Homo sapiens: one gene and its partner. The protein of the gene in region 1 interacts with the protein of each later gene in a pairwise test. Each region holds a gene or a part of one and is shown in the gene's direction. Other genes may lie near its edges.

The links.
Region 2: the proteins of MYO1E (region 1) and SYNJ1 interact in a two-hybrid assay, tested with the Homo sapiens proteins (one study listed by IntAct).

Annotation. Positions count from the first base shown.
Region 1 is NC_000015.10:59,360,631-59,371,782, reverse strand, and holds part of MYO1E (unconventional myosin-Ie), read left to right. Parts: intron 1-11,152. UniProt on the Homo sapiens protein: Actin-based motor molecule with ATPase activity. Unconventional myosins serve in intracellular movements. Their highly divergent tails bind to membranous compartments, which are then moved relative to actin filaments.
Region 2 is NC_000021.9:32,659,673-32,670,824, reverse strand, and holds part of SYNJ1 (synaptojanin-1), read left to right. Parts: intron 1-452; coding exon 453-537; intron 538-4,251; coding exon 4,252-4,392; intron 4,393-4,689; coding exon 4,690-4,882; intron 4,883-5,753; coding exon 5,754-5,912; intron 5,913-6,108; exon of another isoform or gene 6,109-9,326; intron 9,327-9,431; exon of another isoform or gene 9,432-9,597; intron 9,598-11,152. UniProt on the Homo sapiens protein: Phosphatase that acts on various phosphoinositides, including phosphatidylinositol 4-phosphate, phosphatidylinositol (4,5)-bisphosphate and phosphatidylinositol (3,4,5)-trisphosphate. Has a role in clathrin-mediated endocytosis.

The DNA of each region.
Region 1 (11,152 bases):
CGGACGCCAAGTAAACACCTCCTGAAGAGGACCCCACCCCTTCCCAAGCGCGAGGGGATCGGGGCTTTTCGGGGATCCAGGGGACGCTTCGCACGGGAAGACGCCCTCGCGAGTTTCGAGTTTGTTGCTGTTTTCCCTTTGGCACTTTGGGAATGTGTGGAAGGGGCCGCCTCTTTGACTTGTGACTTTTCTGCTATTCCAACTCCCCAGTCCAGCTACACTCCCCTCCCTCCCTGTATAACCTTAGCCACCTCCCTTGGGCTTTGGCGTGGTGTACTTTTCTTTGCGGGGCACGAAAGCAAGGACTCTATTTTGAAGAGATCGGCAGTTCATCAAAAAAAAAAAAATCTATTACAAGGCTTCATAGTTTCCACACTTGCTTCTTTTCAAGTAGTCCTGCTTAGGTGGATTATCTCGTCCTCTTCTGGTTTGCTGTTGTTTTCTAATGGCTGTGGAAGAGAAGCCAAGTCAAAATGATAACCAGCACAACACTAATTAAAAAATCGATATCCCGGTGAGCAGCCTGAGGGAAGTGCAGCAGAGGCCCATCGAAACCTGCACACAAAGCTCAGAAGCCCCCTTGCCCCGTGCTGTTTATTCCAAAGAATGATTACAAACAAACATCAACGAGAAACCTTTCAAGGCATCCTCGGCCAAAGCCTTTTCTTTTTACATAGTCCAAAATTAAGTCACTTTTGCCCCATCTAAGAGAACACTTTGTCTATACATTTCCTCTTCTAGTTTTAAGGTTTAAGAAGTCAGTCTACTCTACGTTACTTTTGGACCCCTTCCCTCACCCCAGCAGAGAACCATTCCCATTGGGCATGTGTTTGGGTGAAGCTACCTCACTGGGCACCTGGTCCCTTGAAGCAGTGTGATAGTCCTGGTACTTGAGAATTGCTGTAATCATTTTCCGTGGGTCAATATTTCTTAAAAAAATCAATGTGTTTATGTCAAGAACTTAAAGAATCTTACTGAATTTAAGTACTTGAGTGGTACCTTGAGGAAATTAACTTCCCCTCAGTTAAACTCATTTTTCATGCTGAATGGACTGAAATATACTCTAGGTTGCCTTTTCCGAAACCTGTGATACCATGCTTAATTCAGCCCCATTGCAGATGAAGTAGAGGGTTGGTCAAATGCATGCGAAGAAGGCATGCTGTAGGGAAGAGGTGGTTCTATCTGAGGACAGTGTGTGACTTCCCTATTGATGGGCTCCCTGCCATCAGCACAGATGGGCATGTTGTGTGCCCCCAGGCGACTATCTGTGCATCAGATATGGTTGCTGAAGTCACAATTCACTGATGGAAAAGTTGAAACAGCTGGCTGTCCTGAAACAGGAGATGTGCCATTGATAGATCTACTGGATCCAGAGTGATTTGGCCAAAGTTAATCATTTCTTTCCTGACTTGAAAAATTGTTCATTATGTATGTGAAGTTGCCTTAGAATAGAGCATCATCTTAAATAATCAGAAACCCAAGTTACAATATTTAATGTTTATGTCAGACTCTGTCAAGCCAAATGATACTTCATTTTGTGTTCCACATCTGCCCAGGCCTGCCCAAGTTGTATCCCTTCAGCTGCTTAGAACAGGAAGGGAAAGGACATTACCTTCTTTGGGTGTGGCTGAAGATTAGCATGGAGGCTAAAATTCATCAGAAGGCCCTTGGCGGCCAGGCGCAGTGGCTCACGCCTGTAATCCCAGCACTTTGGGAGGCTGAGGCAGGAGGAATACTTGAGCCCAGGAGTTCAAGACCATCCTGGGTAACATAGTGAGACCCTGTTTCAGTTAAAAAATATTAAGAAGAAGAAGAAGAAAAAGAAGGCCCTTGGCTGGGCTATAGGGAGAACACCTATACCGTGGACTTCTTCTGTGTGAGTGTGTGTGTGTGCGTGTGTCTTTTAGGAAGTCTGGTAGCATAGTAGGAGGGCTCTCCATCTGTACCTGAGGCCCTACTAAGACTCATTCAGTTGTGACTCATAAGGAAAATAGCCATTTTCATTTTCTGACTCATGAACACAGTGTACAGCTTGTAGTTCACCTTCTATCTTCCTCCTGAAAACTCACTTTGGGACACTTTTCTATCTTGAGAAAACTAGGAACACTACCAGGCAATAGTTACTTGTGTCTTTTTCCTAAGGAGACTTGAAGAAGTTAAAAAAAACCCTGCACATCTTTATAATTTAGTGGAGGTTGTTTAGCAGAGTACAAAAAAATCTCTGTTGACTTTAACCGTAATACCCATCTAAGGCTTCCTTCGTAGAATCTGGGCTTATCATCATCTGCAAAGGAAGTTCTGCTTTTGTGGCCATGACCAGTTTGGACTCTCTGATAGACTGAAACCCATGGCTGTAGGTCCGCTATGTGCTTTGGATCCAGAAATTGTGATTGATTTTTATGCAAGGTTTCTGTGCATTAAATATACAGAAATATTTGAGCAAATCTGAATTGACCATCACCTCAAAACATGTTCAAGAGCTGTTCCCTTTTCCTTACTTGCATATACTTGTGAGGAAATTATAGATATGACACATAAGAATACCCAGGAATAGATTTACAACCTAGAAATCTGATGGATAGCTGATGATAAGGTAGGTAAGTTCCTTTAGGTGATGGCATGGCATGTATTTAGAAAGTCTGGAATACATTTCAAATGTTTCCTGGGAAGGTAACCTACTTGATTTCCACAGATTAGTTTATCAGATTGCTAGTAGTCTCCTAGTCAAAACAACACAATACAACAAAACAAAACCAGAAAGGAATGGGATCAAGCACAAAAAAAGTTTTGATGGAGGCAAAGCGTTGGGGAAATACCTAGAGTCCGGGACATTATCTAGGGACAAGTGTGAGTGGGCCATCCTAGTGGGAAATATTTGACAGCCCAGGCATCTCCTTGGAGAGAAAATGGGTGGAGCAGTGGATGGAGAGGGATGGAGAAGTATAAGAAGCAGACATTTACTGAAGTTGAAAGTCACCTCCACCACACTTTTGCTGAGGACTACAGTCTTGTCAGTGGTTGCAAACTTTTTTTTTTTGAGTTGGAGTCTCTCACTGTCGCCCGGGCTGGAGTGCACTGGCGCGATCTCAACTCACTGCAACCTCCGCCTCCCGGTTTCAAACGATTCTCCTGCCTCAGCCTCCCAAGCAGCTGGGATTACAGGTGCCTGCCACAACGCCCAGCTAATATTTTGTATTTTTTAGTGGAGACGGGGTTCCACTATGTTGGCCAGGCTGGTCTCAAAGTCCTGACCTCGTGATCCTCCTGCCTCGGCCTCCCAAAGTGCTGGGATTACAGGTGCCTGCCACAATGCCCAGCTAATATTTTGTATTTTTTAGTGGAGACGGGGTTCCACTATGTTGGCCAGGCTGGTCTCAAAGTCCTGACCTCGTGATCCTCCTGCCTCGGCCTCCCAAAGTGATTACAGGCATGAGCCACTGTGCCCGGCCAGTGGTTGCAAACTTAAATGTCTTATAATTTGGTGGAGGGAGGCTGGCCTCTAGAGAGTAAATATGGAATATATGTGCCATTCTAGGAGGCACCACTACTTGATTCTAGGCCATGGTTATATCGACCATATTACCAAATTATCTTGTTTTTCAAGAGAAACTAGAAATCTAGATTTTTATGCTATATCTGCCAGTTCTTATTTTTATTTATTTTGAGACAGAGTTTTGCTCTTGTCGCCCAGGCTGGAGTGCACTGGCGCGATCTCGGTTCACTATAACCTCTGCCTCCCAGGTTCAAGCAATTCTCCTGCCTCAGCCCCCTGAGTAGCTGGGATTACAGGCCCCACCACCACACCCGCCTAATTTTTGTATTTTTAGTAGAGACAGGGTTTTACCATGTTGGCCAGGCTGGTCTCAAACTCCTGACCTCAGGTGATCTGCCCGCCTCAGCCTCCCAAAGTTCTGGGATTATAGACGTGAGCCACCACGCCCGGCCTCTGCCAATTTTTATATGTGATTTGATCATCTCAGAGGGGCCAAACACAGCTGCAGATTAGCTGTTTGCAGCCACTTTATTGTAAGTCTTAACATGGTGTCCTTCTGTGAACCACAGTGATTCTTCTCATTCACTCACCAGGAAGAATGTCTAAACGTTCACTGCATACCCAGTAGTGGCATTCAGTATTTATCCATACATCCACACCTTCCTACTGGGTCTCCCTAAAGAGAGGGAATAGCCTGGTATTTTCAGCCTATGCATTCTCTAAGCTATTATAACAGGGAAAATCTGCATCCAGCTGCTACTGTTTGGCGCTATCTCAACACCTGTGTAGGATGGTTCCACGAGTGGTGAGGCTGCAAATTGAGCTTTTCTCTTCAACCCTTCAACTCCTTCCTCCACTGAAAATGCCATGGCCTCCAATGTCACATGATGGACTTCTTGTTTTTCACTCCTTTTTCAGTTGAATCTCATGAATTGGCGGTCTGTCTCAGGCGTTTTCCTGAGGGTTAGATAATGAGCAGCGGCGTGCATTCTGATAACTTAGAATACAACATTTTGCCTCTGTGCCTAGTGTGGGCATGTGATGAGCCCCTGTGAGACTCAGTGAAAGAACATATAGTACCTTGCGTTTCCTCATGAGCCAAGTGTGGGGCCTTATTATTCATTAGGAATTTGAGAAATCTCTTTTTATCTGCTTCAACAAGCAGAAATATTTTAAATCTTCTGTGTAAGTGCAAGGTATTATAAGCTTCATGGTAGGATATATAGGAATTATGTACAGTCATGGTTTTCCAAGTTTGAGTCATCTCTTTTTTTTTTTTTTTTTTTTTTTTTGCGAAAATGCAGCAACTTGTGTTTTTACCAATCTGTGATTAAAATGTTTCTTAATGGTGAGTTTTTAAAAACTTTTTTTTTCTTTTTCTCACCATGCTGAAATATTTACAAAGTAAATAAGAGGTTAAAGGTTAAATGCCAAAGGTATTAAAATAAACATCTCAGCCTTATAAGCACATTCTGTAATAGTGGTAAACAAATTGTGTTTTGAATTTCAGTTTCAGAATTTATGTTGGCAGAGACAAAAGGTTTTGGGGCATCCTAGCAAAGTATTTTTTTCATATATCTTTGGGACAGCCACACTTAAGAGAAGTACAACTGTAAAAGCCAGCCCTAACATAGTGACATGAACTTTGACAACCCATAGAACTCAAACTGTACATGTGAATGAAGTTGGCCCGCCCTTCTGAGTTACCACCATGAGAATGACGTCATTGCCGTTGTTCAAAGCACTTTTGAATGGTCATTTATGAGCTATGTAATAAAACCTATTTTTTTGCCGGGTGTGGTCGTTCAGGCCTTTACCAAAAAAAATTTTAAAAATTAGCCACGTGTGGTGTCATGCACTATAGTCCCAGCTACTTGGGAGGCTGAGGTGGGAGGATTTCTTGAACTGAGGAGTTCAAGTATGCAGTGAGCTGTAACTGTGGCACTGCAGCCTGGGTGAGAGTGAGAGAGAGAGAGAGAAAGAGAGAGAGAGAAAAAAAAGAAAGAGACAGGGCTGGGCCCTGTGGTTCACGCCTGTAATCCCAGCACTTTGGGGGGCCGAGGTGGGCAGATCACCTGAGGTCAGGAGTTTGAGACCAGCTTGGCCAACCTGGTGAAACCCCGTCTCTACTAAAAATACAAAAGTAGCCAGGTGTGGTGGTGCATGCCTGTAATCGCAGCTACTTGGGAGGCTGAGGCAGAGAGAATCACTTGAACTTGGGAGGCGGAGGTTGCAGTGAGCCTAGATCACGCCATTGCACTCCAGCCTGGGCAACAAGAGTGAAACTCTGTCTCAAAAGAGAGAAAGAAGGGAAGAAGAGGGAAGGAGGGAGGGCCTTATTTTTTATTTTTTAACTCCTTAGTGCCCAGTGTGATCATTCCTATTACTCACCAGACTTTGTATTACATCCCTCTCAGGTGTTTCCAGAAGTTACATTGTGCCTCAAAGGCGGAACAATTAGCCCCACTAAAGATATGCAGTATCCAGCAGGTCCCTTTTTCCTGGAATAAGTATAAGAACTGCTCTGAAGGAGGCACACTCTCTTGGGTCTTTTGAGCTCTGATAATGTTTGTTACAAATTCATTTATAGCACTTTATGGTCATACGTTACATTATAGAAAGTAAAACATAGGCTACATTGTAGAAAGCCCAGAAGAGAGCTTAAAAATTCTATCCTAAATCCATTTGTTAACTTCACAGAGAGATCTAGAGAGGTTAAATTACTTCCAAAGTCTCATAGCTAGTTTTTAGCTGAGCTGGTGCCAGAATCCAAGTTAGATCTGATCCAGTGCAGATCTAACCTTATTAGATCCCAGTCTAATAAGGTTTTTCTTACCAAACAGTGGTGGGAATAATTCTTTAAGAGTCTGGACGTGACCAGATAGTTTTCTTTCTGGGACTTTTCAAGAAAGTCTGCTTGTAGGTGGAAGGTTACTGTACTAACTTCATTATAAGAAATTTAGAAGAATTCAGCCGGGCGCGGTGGCTAACGCCCGTAATCCCAGCACTTTGGAAGGCTGAGGTGGAGGGATCACCTGAGGTCAGAAGTCCGAGACCAGCCTGGCCAACATGGTGAAACCCTGTCTCTACTAAAAATAAAAAATTAGCCGAGTGTGGTGGCAGGCACCTGTAATCTCAGCTACTTGGGAGGCTGAGGCAGGAGAACTGCTTGAACCTGGGAGGCCGAGGTTGCAGTGAGCCGAGATCACACCATTGCACTACAGCCTGGGGCACATCTCAAAAAAGAAAAAAAAAAAGAAAAAGAAATTTAGAATAATTCACCCAAAGTACCCCCACACCCTAACACAGTAATTATTTTTGTCTCTGGGTTTCCTTTCAGTCTGTTCAAATGCATTGTTTCTTTGTTTGTTTGTTTTTCTTGAGATGGAGTCTCACTCTGTCGCCCAGGCTGGAGTGCAGTGGCATAATCTCGGCTCACTGTAACCTCCTTCTGCCTCCCAGTTTCAAGCGATTCTCCTGCCTCAACCTCCTGAGTAGCTGGGATTATAGGTACACACTACCATGCCCGGCCAACTGTTTTATTTTTAGTAGGGACAGGGTTTCACCATGTTGGCCAGGCTGGTCTTGAACTCCTGGCCTCAAGTGACCCACCTTGACCTCCCAAAGTGCTGGGATTATAGGCATGAGCCACCACACCGGGCCTCAAACACATTGTTTTTATGTGGTTGTAATTATGGGGCAAATATACAATTTGTGTTCTGTTATTTTTCCACTTGTTTTACAAATCCTTTTTCTTGATAAGCATATTTGTTATATTTTGGTGGCAGTATTATAATCCCATGTAGCCGGATTACTCACTGTGTGTCATAACTGTATGGAGACTTCCTCCAGAAGTGTGTACAGGGGAGAGTTCCTCCTTCCACCCACTAGAACCGCTGTGGTCAGTAATGGGCTGCTTAATCTTTGGCTCCTGAGATAAGAAGCCCCCTCTTTGGGTGAGCTTGGGATGCATACTCCACATTCCCAGGTTCTAGCCCAAAGGTACCTACCATTGGTGCTCCCCCTGGATTCTGGCGTTGACACTCAAATATGTGACACCAGTGGGTACTCAGACCTCTAGGTCTTCCTTGGCAAATATGAGTGGTCTTACCAGAGAACGGGAGTGGATGGAGATGGAGAGCTTTGAACCTCAAAGTGGAGAGAAGACATTGCCATGGCAAAGGAGGTTAGCATACAGGCTTGGTGAATTAGAGCTGGGCATGGTGGCTCAGGCCTGTTATCCCAGCACTTTGGGAGGCCGAGGAGGGCAGATCACTTGAGGTCAGGAGTTCGAGACCAGCCTGGCCAACATGTCAAAACCCCCGTCTCTACTAAAAATACAAAAAAATTAGCTGGGTGGGGTGGCGGGCACCTGTAATCCCAGCTACTCGGGAGGCTGAGGCAGGAGAATCGCTTGAAATGGGAGGCAGAGGTTGTGGTGAACCAAGATCTTGCCACTGCACTCCAGTCTGGGCGACAGAGCAAGATTCCGTCTCCAAAAAGATGAATTAGTCTCTCTGCCTCTGCTTATGAGAAGCTCCCCATATAGTGGAGAAATGATAACAAAAGGCTTCCATATACATGATTTCATTTCATTCTAGCACCAGTGTTGGTTTTTATTGCCATTTTACAGGTAAGAAAATCAAAGTGTAGTGAGGGGAGGGGAATTACTTAGGGCCACACAATTTGTATGTGACCAGCCAGATCTGCTAAGTCCATGCTCTTTGAAAAGTGGTTCAATAAATTATTTCTAAATTTGACAATGCCGAGTCCACGTATTTGTATACTTTTTCATTATTTCACATACTCCTGAGGGAAGGTAAGGCTGATAGAAAATCACCAATTTTGGTTGATTTTATTCAGTAATACCAGAGGGGATAATTTAGACTTAAGAACATTGTCTGTTATGAGTAGTAGTGTTCTGAGTTTTAATTTCCTTGCTTTGGGACTTTGCCATAGAGACTAGAAGATGTCATAGTGAGAGCAAGCATAAAAGTAAAAGAAAGTAATACTGGCCGGGCATGGTGGCTCACGCCTGTAATCCCAGCACCTTGGGAGGCCGAGGCGGGTGGATCACGAGGTCAGGAGATCGAGACCATCCTGGCTAACATGGTGAAACCCCGTCTCTACTAACAATGCAAAAAAAATTAGCCAGGCATGGTGGTGGGCACCAGTAGTCCCAGCTACTCAGGAGGCTGAGGTGGGAGAATGGCGTGAGCCTGGGAGGCGGAGCTTGCAGTGAGCCGAGATCGTGCCACTGCATTCCAGCCTGGGTGACACAGCGAGACTCCGTCTCAAAAAAAAAAAAAAAAAGAAAGTCATACTAGAAGGCTCTCTAATCTTAACTAGGATTAAAAAAAATAGAAAATAGGAAAATGTGAGAACAACAGAGATTTAGTTGTTTAATTCTTAAATACATTACAGAATACAACAACAAAATTAGAATATCACATTGTTAGTCTCCTAATAATTTCTTCGGTGTGACCACCATTTGATGTTGACAGCAATTTAGGATAACATTACATGGTCACAGAATATTTTGGACAGTATTATCTGATTCTAAGAAATTTTCAATGAAAAAATAATAGGGCTGTTTTTGGTGTCCTAGGAAGATGCAGACCTTATAGAAAATTTTAGATTTAAATGCAGAAGAATCTAATAAGCTATTTTAAGAATGTAAGTAAAGATAGCTTCCTTCAAGGCTTGGGAATGCTGTAATGCAGAAATATGCATCAATGCAAAATGATGACAGTGCCCTTTCTCCACATCAGATTATCAGAGATTCCTAACATTTGGATGGGAGAATGTCCTGAGTCCTCTGAGAATATGTTGGAAGCTACTGACCTTTTCCCTGACAGTGTTTATAATAACAAATAAACATTCCGCAGATCACGAGAACAAACAAAACAGGAACAATCTAAATGTTCATTGGAAGAGAAATACATGTGGCTTGTTTGATAATATGGTATCAATATGCATAGGTGTCACAAGGGTAGTGTTTGGTAAAGAAGCAAGTTGTAGAAAGACGCATATCTGAAACCATGTAAGAAAAATGTCAAAAACACAAAATAAGACTGCTATTTGGGGGTCTATACATTTATTTGTGTATGTGTACATATATGTATTTGTGTGGATATTATTTTAAAAAATATAGGCTGGGCGTGGTGGCTCATGCTTGTAATCCTAGCACTTTGGAAGGCCGAGGCGGGTGGATCACCTGAGGTCAGGAGTTCGAGACCAGCCTAGCCAACATAGCGAAACCCCATCTCTATTAAAAATACAAAAATTAGCCTGGCGTGGTGGTAGACGCCCGTAATCCCAGCTACTCGGGAGGCTGAGGCAGGAGAATCGTTTGAACCCAGGAGGAGGAGGTTGCAGTAAGCTGAGATCATTCCACTGTACTCCAGCCTGGGCGATACAGCCAGACTCCATCTCAAAAAATAAATAAATTAATTAATAAATTAATTAAAAAAATCCACAGACTAGAAAGATCCACACCAAGTTCAAAATACTGAAGGGGGAAAGAGGAAAGGGAGACGACTGAGTCAGTAATGTTTTATTTGCTTTACATATAGAAAAATCCAAAGCAAATATGATGAGATATTATTAATTCTAGGCAGTTGTACATATATATTTCTTTGTTATCCTCTGTAGTTTTAACATCTTTTCTCAGTTCAGATGAAAAAATACATATAATTCTTCATTTAACTTCAGGAGGTTTATAAACCCCTGAAGCCCATACAGTAGCATTCCAAGAATTACAACTAACATTGTCTTGAAATGAGTATTAGGGAGTATGGTCAATTTTGGATCTATGTCAGGTTATTTCAATGACAGTTGACATACAGTCGCATCAATAGTGAGTCCCACTGACTATTGTGTAAAGAGCCATTAGGGGATATGTCTCCCAATGTTCAATACATCTTAGCTCTGCTTAGCCACCTTTTCTTGTGTTAGCTTTTGGTGTGACCAATCACCCAAACTCAGTAACTTAAATAATAAATGTTTATACTTTCTTATGATTTTGTGCACTGGCGTGGCAGTTCTGGTCTCAGCTGGTTCATTCAATCACTGTGGTCAGCTAGTGGCTTGGCTGGGAATGGATGATCTAGGGTGGCCTCACTCACATGTCTGGTAGTTGGTCCAGTCTCAGCTGGGGCCATGGGATGGCTTGGCCATGTGTCTCTTGTCACAACAGTCTAGCTCTGGCTTGTTTACATAGTAGTGGTCACACCACAGGGTTCCCAAGAAAAGCAAGGGTACAAGCTCCAGGGCACACACATTTTTCAACCCTTGCTTGCGTCATGCTTGCTATTATCCCCATTGGCTGAAGCAAGTCACACTGTCAAGTCCAGAGTCACTGTGGAAGAGGACTGCCCAAAGGCTCAGATTCAGTTCCCTACCCTCAACCTTTTCTGTCAACTTTCCTACATTGCGGGAATACTTGGAGGCAGGAATAGATTGAGTGGTAGCTCCAGTTTTCTCTGGCTGATCCCCTGAACCCCTTTGTTTGACAGAAGCCAGCATGGCTCCTGCTCTGTCTGCTGCTGCTTTCCCAAGCAAGGCATGAGGAATCGGAGCTGAAGTCCTTTTGTAGTGATGAGGCTCAGTCTCATTCTAAAACTGCTGTCTTTTGTTGGGGGAAAAAAAGGGCAAAAA
Region 2 (11,152 bases), on another chromosome or scaffold:
AAGATCAAGATTATGTTTTTCAAATATGAATGTGAAAAATTCCTCCCAACTGTTACCAGCAATTTGAGGTAGTTTCTCAGTCACTTTATTCTTTGTGCCTTTTCTGAATAATTTCTCTCTCCAGTTTTATGTGAGATTTTGATTTGAGAAATGATTTGTTTCTGTGCTGTCCCTGGTAAAAACTTTAGCAAGAGTTTTTTCAAAGTGAATTCTGAAAGGGCTTAAGAATCTTCAAGGATAACCGTCTTAAAGAAGCAAACTTAGGACACCCTAATAGAAAGTAAATTTTAATAATTTCATTCCACTCAAGAGTGTTTGCCTTTAATATGAATTTGGTTAAACTCAAAACACAGAAATCAGTCTTTATGAGACCTGGTGTTATGTTGTGTTGGATGGGGTTGCTATTTGCCTGAGGCTATATTTAAAAGTATTTCTTGGATGCTTAATTTTAGATAAAAGAAGTAAGCCAACTGATATATTTGCAATTGGTTTTGAAGAAATGGTAGAATTGAATGCTGGAAACATTGTGAGTGCAAGGTAAGCTAGCCACATTAATCCACTGAAAAATTTGCCAGTTGAGGGAAACTATGGAGGACAGATAATTAAGTAATTGTTACAAGGATAGTTTGAAATAATAAATGGAAGGGTGCTCGTAAAACTGTAAAAGAGCATTTCTCATACTTTTGGGTCTGAGGATCTCTCTGCACACTTAAAAATATTGAGAATGTTAAATAACTTTTGCTAATGTTGTTTATATCTTTGTTATATTAGGAATTAAAAATGAAAATTTAAAAACATTTAATTCACTTAAAAACAATAATAAACCTATTACATGCTAACTTAAAATAAATTTTTTGAAAAATAACTTTTTCAAAACAAAAAATTTACTGAGAAGGGTGGCACTGTCTTGTAGTTTTCCAAATCTCTTTAATGTCTAGTTTAAGACAGCCAGATTCTTACATCTACTTCTGTGTCAGTCTGCTGCAGTATGTTGTTTTGATTGAAGTATATGAAGAAAAATCACATAACTATGTAGTTTGAAAAGGAAATATTTTAATAACCTTTCTAGATAATTTCTTCTCTGATACTACACCAAAACAGATAATTTATTCTCTGCTGTAGTATAGATAACAGAGAAGTATTATCTTGGTGTAGTGTGTGGATAAGACACTATACCAAATGGTAGTGTCCTAAAGGTTAGTTGCAAAATGGAATCTGAAACCATATTGATGAACTTTTTCTGCTCTATTATCTAAAATTCATCTTTTACCTTTGCGTGATTTTGTAACATCATGTATTGGTCACTTGGGTTCCCTAAGTTATGTAGCACTTCCAAATTTTAACACATTTCATTATATAATATCAAAGCATCATATTGGTTAATTACCAGCATTGGTAACTGCATCAGAAAATAATTGTTGGGAAGCTGTAAGGATCATGGTAGCAGATACAAGTTTTCCAGAATACTAATTTTTGCCTGAAAACGCAAGTTTTTCCATTGAAAACAAATGCTCTTGGTTGTTTTTCTTAAAGAGACAGGCTTAGTTGAAAAAAATGCCACATAACCTAAATCTGAATAACCACCGTCTGTCATTAGTTCTTTTAAGGGAAAATTGTATTCCAAAAAAAAAGTGGCAGTTTGACTCACAATTTAAAGCATTTTCTTTTTTTGTTACAGATCATAAGTCAGTATGCAACACAAGTGCTTTGTATGTATTTCCTGTGTATCACACAGAATATTAAAAAGATGTGACCTGGGTTGAGCTTTAATAAAATCAATAATGTCTGTTGCTTCATCAAGGACATTCTTAGGCGAAGTGGCATTTTTTTTTTCCTGCAAGTATATGGCAGTGGGGATTGTAATGATGACTAGTATAGTTTGGTGCCTAAATTCGAGTGAAAGCACCAGCACTTTTACCCATTGTTGCTTTTGCACCATCAGTGCAAATGTTAGTCAACACAGTGAAAGATGTCTTAATAGTATGATGAAAATAGTTGTGACCCCATGGGCTTTGGGAACCCTCAAAGATGTCTCCAGATCACACTTTGGGAACGCTGTTCTGAATCCATATTATAAATACAAATTATATGAGTGAGGCTTAAAACTTCAGTGTTTTATTTTAACAAAGTATGCTTGCTTTTAAATTTCAGCAGTTTCCCATCTTTTATGACATTTTTAAAGATTTTTAGGAGAAAATTATAGGCTGAAATAGTCATCAATCTTGCAAGTGACAAATATTTTATTAGGCAAAATGAAAAACAATTCACATCAGGAAAATTGGAAAGAAATCAACTTCACCCATTTTGTTGTTTGATTATGTTTCCTGAAAAATATATTCAGGTCCTAAACTAGACTATAACTCTGAGGGTTCCTAGTACTAAGTGCATGGATCAATTGTTTGTCTAAATAGAGTTTAATCAAATTCTTCTTTAGGCTAGGTTTAATCAAATTCTTTAGGCTGGGTGTGGTGGCTCATGCCTGTAATCCCAATGCTTTGGGAGGCCAAGGCAGGTGGATCACTTGAGGTCAGGAGTTTGAGACCAGCCTGGCCAATATAGTGAAACCCTATCTCTACTAAAAATACAAAAAAATCAGCTGGACGTGGTGCCCCGTGCCTGTAATCCCAGCTACTCAGGAGGCTGAGGCAGGGAGAATCGCTTGAACCTGGGAGACGGAGGTTGCAGTGAGTGGAGATCGCACCACCGCACTCCGGCCTGAGTGACAGAGCAAGACTCTGTCTCAAATATGTATATGTATATATATATACACACATGCACACACACACACACACACACACACACACACACACACACATATATATTCTTCTTTAATAAAGTAGTGAATATTTATTCATTTATTTAAGCAGTACCTACTGAGTACCACTCTTAAGTACCTCCAATGAATCAAACAGACAAAAATCCCTATCTTCATGGACTTCGTATTCTAGTGGGAAGAAACGGACAGTGAACAATAACAACAATAAGTAAATTATACAGCATGTTAGAAAAGTGCAATGGAAAAGAGAGGAAAAGGAGATCAACTATAGGGACACAGGGAAGTGTTGGAAGTCTCAAATGAATGATCAAGATAAGGTTCATTGAGAAGATGAGGAATGAGTTTCAGCTACTTGCGGGGCTGAGGTGGGAGGATCGCTTGAGCTCAGGCAGAGGTTGCAGTGAACCGACATCCTGCCACAGCACTCCAGCCCTGGGTGACAGAGTGAGACCCCATCTCAAGAAAAAAAGAGAGATTAGGAGACATGACAAGCAAATGCAATATGTAGACCTTGTTTGGACCCTTTTTAAAGAAACAAACCAACTGTTAGAAGATTTTTTTTTAATAAATGGGGAACTTTAAGTATAAACTATTAGATGATATTAAGGAATTATTAATGTTTAAATGTGATAAGGTGAAGAGGATGGAAAAAATAGATTGGCAAAATGTTGGTAATTTTGAAATGGGTATATGGTGGTTTGTTTAATGATTATGTCTTCTAATTTCCCATAGCAAGATTTTTTAAAAAGACATTAGTTATAATTTAGAAAAATTTTGAAAAGTGGGGAAATGTATTTGGAAGCACATATAGTCACATATATGTGCACAGTTAGCTGTCCTTATCCATGGGTCTGACATCTTTGGATTCAACTCATCAAAATATTAAATATTTTTTAAAATTGTGTCTATACTGAACATGTGTAGCCTTTTTTTTTTTGTCTTTTTTACTTGCAGACTTTTTTGTATCGTTATTCCCTAAACATTACAATATAACAACTAATTACATTGTATTAGGTATTATAGGTAATCTAGAGATGATTTAAAGTATACGAGAGATTTACATGGGTTATATGCAAGTATTACTCCATTTTATGTAAGGGACTTGAGTATCCTTGGATTTTGGTATCATGGGAGGTCCTGAAACCAATCTCCCACAGATACTTCTATACTTCTCTGTGATCTTAATGAATACTTAAGGAAAAAGTAAAATGTATAAGTTTGAATTTACTCACCCAGTGAGTAGCCATTTAATGTCTTTATATTTTCTTTGTAAAGAAGTAATAGATTAGATTTTGAAATGTGGTTTTCTTTTGGCTAAATTGTAGATTTTCCTTTTTAAAGGAAACAAAAACAGCCTAAGCTTCCTTCAGAGTCTTAGGATATTTGGGTAGATAAAGGTATAATTGACAATTGTCATAAAATAGGCTATTGTCAATACCTTTTTAAAAAATTCTCTTTTTAATATTTTCTTGTAGCACAACAAATCAGAAGCTCTGGGCTGTAGAACTTCAGAAGACAATCTCCAGAGACAACAAGTATGTGCTGCTGGCTTCTGAACAGTTGGTGGGCGTCTGTTTGTTTGTTTTTATCAGACCACAGCATGCTCCTTTTATCAGGTCAGTAAACAGAACACTCCTCTAAGGCTACTTCCTACCATTAAATAACAAGAAAAAAGCCTAGAATGTTTATTGTTTCAGTTCTTCAAACAAAAACTATCCATAGTTCTTGTTTTAAAATGGGGTTTTGGGGGTTTTGATTAAAGACTCACCAATAGCTTCACTGTACTATTTCAAAGGCTTGCCCTCAAAGTACCATACCATGTGTACTTAAATGATTATGTATATTCCTCATTTCCTATGCACATGGAACTCTTGAAATTTCAAATCTGCGATTTAGAATTCTTTGTTTCAAAGGGATGTTGCAGTTGATACTGTGAAGACTGGAATGGGAGGTGCAACTGGAAATAAGGGAGCAGTTGCAATCCGAATGCTCTTCCATACAACCAGCCTTTGCTTCGTCTGTAGCCACTTTGCTGCAGGGCAGTCACAAGTCAAAGAAAGAAATGAAGATTTTATAGAAATAGCACGAAAATTGAGTTTTCCTATGGTAAGCTCTTGCTGCTTGTTCTTGAAGATAAAGCTTTGAAATATATTTTAATTTGCCCCAAATTCTACATCAATGTTTTTGGAAATTTAAGATAGTTCCTAGAAACATTAAGAATATTCACCTAAATAGATATTTCATGAGTATTAACCCAAAATATCTGAGACAGGGCTCAGTCAATTTAGAAAGTTTATTTTGCCAAGGTTAAGGATGTGGCCATGATATAGCCTCCAGAATTCAGAATGACATGTGCCCAAGGTGGTCGGGGGTACAGTTTGCTTTTATACATTTTAGGGAGACCTGAGACATCAGTCAGTATGTGTATGATGTACACTGGTTTGGTCTGGTAAGGCAGGACAACTCGAAGTGGGGGCTTCCAGGTTAGAAGTAGATAAGACGCAAAAGGTTGCATTCTTTTAAGTCCTAGATCAGCCTTCCACTGAATACACAATTTAGTGTGGCTCAGTGAATCTGCATTTTTGCATAAACAATAGGGCAGAGGAAGCAGTCAGATGTGCATTTGTCTCAGGTGAGTCTCAGAGGGATGACTTTGAGTTCAGTCTATACTTTGTCCACAAGGAATTTCCTGTGGGCAAATTGTGAGGGAGTTATGTAGCTTCTTATCTTTGGAGCTATCTTATTTAGGAGTAAAATGGGAGGCAGGTTTACCTGTCATAGTTCCTGGCTTGATTTTTCTCTGGGCTTAGTGATTTTGGGGTCCTGAGATTTATTTTCGTTTCACATGTGTTATTACTGTTGGGTCAAAGAAACAGGACATGGGAGGAGACAAGCATATCTCAGGCAAAGAAATAGTTGTAAAACATTTTTGAACATTGATTGTTTTGAATTTAAAATTCTATCTCATTGCTTTCAGGGAAGGATGCTATTTTCCCATGACTATGTATTTTGGTGTGGTGATTTCAACTATCGAATCGATCTCCCTAACGAAGAAGTTAAAGAGCTCATAAGACAGCAAAATTGGGATTCTCTTATAGCAGGAGATCAACTTATCAATCAGAAAAATGCTGGACAGGTATATCTATACTTGAGAAAATACTTGCATTAAGATTTTGGGTCGTGAAACATGCCTTTTTAAATCAAGATGTTTTAAAATTTTCTTGGGGTCTTTTTGTACTTAAATATGCATCTGTAGGTAAACAGATAATAGAATTATCTTTCCTTAAAGTGTAGCAGGATGAGCTGCAGACAAGAACCCTTCAGACACCAAGTTGTAGAAGGAAAGGGCTTTATTCAGCTGGGAGCAGCAGCGGACTCACGTCTCCAAAAACCGAGCTCCCCGAGTGAGCAATTCCTGTCCCTTTTAAGGGCTTACAGCTCTAAGGGAGTCCATGTGAGAGGGTCGTGATCGATTGAGCAAGCAGGGGGTATGGGACTGGGGGCTGCATGCACTGGTAATCAGAATGGAACAGGACAGGGATTTTCACGATGCTTTTCCATACAATGTCTGAAATCTATAGATAGCACAAGCGGTTAGGTCAAGGGTTGATTTTTAACTACCAGGCCCAGGGCACAGTGCTGGGCTATCTGCCTGTGATTCCATTTCTGCCTTTTAGTTTTCACTTCTTTCTTTGGAGGCAGAAATTGGGCATAAGACAATATGAGGGGTGGTCTCCTCCCTTATTCCCCCCTTTGAGAACTTCACTCATTAATGGGAGTTCTCACTTTCATCCTCATTACCCATGTCTTCTTGCAAGACAGATTGATAGTGATTCATATGGTACACTTGCGCTGAAGCATTTTGGTGAGCTAAGGTAGTGATGAAGCTTTTTATCATTTGAAGAAGTACAAGTAGCAAACAAGGGAGCAGTAAGCAGGTTCCTATTACTATTATAACTCCTATTATAAGAGTTTTAAATCCTCCTAGCACTGGGAACCATTTTTCAAACATGGCCCCCGGATCAAATCCATGCCACACTTGCACAGGCACATGTGTCAGTTTTGTCATATCTCTAATTATGTCTTCAACTACTTGCCCTTCATCATCTGTGTATAGACAGCAATTAGTAAGGTTAAATTTCCCACAGACCCCCACCTTCAGCTGCTAGCAAGTAGTCGAGAGCCAATCTATTTTGATAGATAGCATTTCTCATCTGAGACTCTTGCCAGGGCAGTATAGTCAAGGCTCTGCCAGTTTTATTAGTGATTATTTCTAAGACAGCTTGTAACCGTATGATTCGGTTGAGCATGTAAATGGGGGTCCAGTATCCCCACGAGCCATCTTGTGCCCAAGTAGCAGGTCTGTAATATTGTATGATTCTCTCAGGGGGCCATTCATCATCTTTCCAATTTCCTATAGCTATGCTTCTCTTTTCTCGGGCAGCATAGACAGGGAAACCCAGGAGTTTGCCTGTCTTTATGGGCAGTAGGAAGAAAGATGGTTTAATAGTGCCAATAACACAACTACCTGTCCACTGGTTGGATAATTTGGCACAAGCTCTATGCCCACATATACAGTATAATCCAGTGGGGGCTGTCCAGTCCTGGTGGGACTCCGGATGGGTCCACACGGTTTGCAACTTTGGGAATTTACTAAATGGATTCCTTTCTGTGTGATTTGAACTCCACCAAGTGACTGTTTTTGTGGTACCATTATACAGTTTCTGTCCCAGACAACTAAGTCATCCTACGGGGTGAGTGAATTCTTTTCCTTCTCCAGCTATGCAATATTGTCCAATAATTGAGGTTTTTAGGACCCAGAAATTATCAGGGTGATTCTTTTGAGCTGGGAATTCATCAGGAACTGGGTCTGTAGGTACTAATTCTCGGGCTTCTCGTGGCCATTGATCTCCCATTACAGTTCCTCCACATACATAATGTGAAGCAACATTGAGAGACTAGGCTACATGCTTGGCTAATTGCAAAAACAAATTTCTTGTTTTTCCTGGAATTTCTGGTACTGGCACATTTAGTTCATCATAGAAAGTTTGAAGCACTGGCTCAGGAGAGTGTTTGTAAACTTCTCCTCGAACTAAGATATTTACTCGAGGATCCAGTCCAGCCCCATTGATTCCTAAGGTCACACGCTCCCCTTTTTTCCAGCGAGGATCAAGGGGATTGGTTATTACTAGCTCTAAGGGGTTACATTGTCCCTTAGTACAGGAAGGGCCACTTTTTCCTTTCTGAAGCTGCACTGGATCCTTTTCATTTTTTATCCAAGTGGCCCAAATGACACCAGTATCCACATTGATTTCCACACAGTCCTAATTCATGACAAATATACTTATTTTTGGTCATATAGCCTTTTTCCCAATCAAAAGCCACACCCCTTCCTAACTTATTGCTCTTAATGACAGCACAGGCATCAAATTTCAAGATTATGCGTTTGGGCACCCCTTTTTCTTCTGTTTTGGCTAATACTTGTATCATTTACAAGTCCCCATCAGTCTTCAGTCCTTAATCTTACTTCAAAAACTGTGGACCTGGGAGGCCACAGAGGGATCATAACACACATCTGGGCAGTCGTTTCCTAGGCTACATACCTCGTACTGAGTGTCATTATATAAACACGTTCCTTTTAAAGTTCCTAGGCATTCATAGTAACTATAGAACAGAAAGATTGTTTTAACTTGTTACCCTACCTCAGTAACCTGATGTATACACTGAGAGCAGTCTTCTATGCAGGGAAAATCAGTGGAAGTTTTTACTATACAAGTCCAAATTATAAGGAAAATGAGTCCCACGATGATTCTCCTCATGCCTCGGCCGTGCGTAGACCAGTCAGCTTCCGGGTGTGACTGGAGCAGGGCTTGTCATCCTCCTCAGAGTCACTTTCAGGAGTTGTCTGGGCTCGGTTTTGCCTCCCAAGTTTCAGCAGCTGCAGGTTTCACACGGCTGTGGTGGATCCAGGCTGGGATTCCTTCTCCTTTACAGCCGTGGGGGTGGTCAGGATGATGGTGTGAGGTCTTTTCCACTGTGGCCGCAAAGGGACTACGTTCCAGTCCTTGATCCACATGCGATCACTTGGAGAGAAAGGGTGAACTGGGGAGAATAAGCTGACGGGACACCTCTCATTTACCCAAGTTGAGATTGTTTGTGTAATTTTTCCCAAAGCCCGTAGCTGTCACTGTAACTCAATTTCACCTAACTCTCGGGGAGTGCCTGGAAGTCCCCCTAGTATAGGAGGAGGCCTATGATACAGTATTTCATAAGGGGAGTATCCTGTTAGAAGGGATGCATCTAATTTTAAACAATACCATAGGAAGGGCCTGTATCCATTTTAATCCTGTTTCCTGACATACTTTCCCTAAACTATTTTTGATAGTCTGATTCATTCGCTCCACCTTTCCAGAACTCTGAGGTCAGTAGGCGGCATGTAGTTTCCAAGTGATTCCTAATGCCTTTGCTGTCTTCTGTACCAAGTCAGCCACAAACACCGGCCCGTTATGTGAGCCAATTCGTAAGGGCAGTCCAAACCTAGGAATAAGATCTCGGAGAAGCACACGGGTTACTTCGTAGGCCTTTTCAGTTTGTGTTGGATAAGCCTCCACCCACCCAGAGTAAGTACACACAAGAACCAGCAAATACTTGTTACCTTCACATTTTGGCATTTCTGTGAAATCCACCTGAAGACCCTCAAAAGGAGCCGCTCCATAAGCTTGTATGCTGGGTGGAACCGTGGGGCCTTGCCTCACATTGCGCTGTCAGCAAGTAACACACCATTGTGCTACTGCTTTGGCAAGGGCTGGCAAGTGTGAGATGTAGAAGTACCGGCCTAACAACTTTTCAAGTGACTCTTGACCTAGAAGAGTGGTTTCATGCATGGCCAGTACGACTGTGGCTCTCAGCAACTGTGGCACAGCTACCTTCCCATCTGGCAGTCTGATCCATCCTTCTTTTATTACTTGCCCCACTTCTGTGTGGAAAAAGTCTTTTTCTTCCTTAGAATAGGTAGGTACCAGGTCAGGTGTTTGAGGGAGTAAGGGGGCTGCTACTGATGCACAGTAAGGGGTAGATGCTGCTTTTCGAGCTTCTGAGTCAGTTTGGGAGTTTCCTAAGGCCACTGAGGTGGAGGCTCGCTGGTGTCCCCTGCAGTGCATGACTGCCACCTTCTGAGGTTTCCACACTGCCTCTAATAATTGTAGAATTTCTTGTTGATATTTTATGTCCTTTCCCCTAGAGTTTAACAGGCCCTTTTCCTTATATAATGCTCCATGCACTTGGAGGGTTAGAAAGGCATATCAAGAGTCAGTGTAGATGTTTACAGTCTTACCTTCACTGAGTTCTAGAGCCCGAGTTAAAGCAATGAGCTCAGCCTTCTGGGCTGAAGTGCCCTGTGGCAATGGTTTGGCTTCAATGACAGCGTTCAAAGTTACCACCGCATATCCTGCACATCTTTCTCCATGTGGATTGATGAAGTTGCTCCCGTCCATGTATAACTCCCAGTCTGCTGATGCCCATGGCTGGTCCCGAAGGTCAGGTCTGCTAGAATAAACTGAGTCCAACATGTCTACACAGTTATGCTTGACCAGGCTCTCTGATACTGGGAGCAGGGTGGCGGGATTTAGGGTGTTACAGACGTCAGTGATTATGCGGGGATTTTCACATAGCAAGCTTTGGTACTTGGTTAATCTAGCATTTGTTAGCCAATGATGTCCTTTGGTATTCATCAAAGTTACCACAGTATGGAAGGCCTTTATATTCAGGTTTTGCCCAAGGGTTAGTTTATCTGCTTCTTGTGCTAACAGGGCCATTGCTGCCAGGGCCCTTAGACATGGGGGCCAGCCTTTGGAAACCCCATCTAGTTGTTTTGAGAGATAGGCCACTGGCCTTGGCCAGAGCCGCACAGTCTGGGTTAAAACTCCAACTGCCATTTTTTATCTTTCTGACACATAGAGTGTAAAGGGGTTTGTCAAATCTGGTAGTCCTAGGGCTGGGGCCAACATAAGTTTTTCCTTTAACTCATGGGGGCCTGCCATGCGCTGCTGTGGTGAGGCGTTCGACCGGGGCAATTACCTACCCGGAAGTGCTCTCAGGATCCGCATTGCTCAAGCTGGCCGGAGTCCCCCACAGGGATGTGCCACAGGGCAGGCCTAAGCCACCTAAGGGGCTGCCTTGACCATCCGTTAATCACCTCACTTCCCGGTCGGGGAACCAAGAAATGTAGCAGGACGAGCCTCAGACAAGAACCCCTCAGACACCGAGTTGTAGAAGGAAAGGGCTTTATTCAGCTGGGAGCATCGGCAGACTTGCGTCTCCAAAAACTGAGCTCCCCGAGTGAGCAATTCCTGTCCCTTTTAAGGGCTTACAACTCCA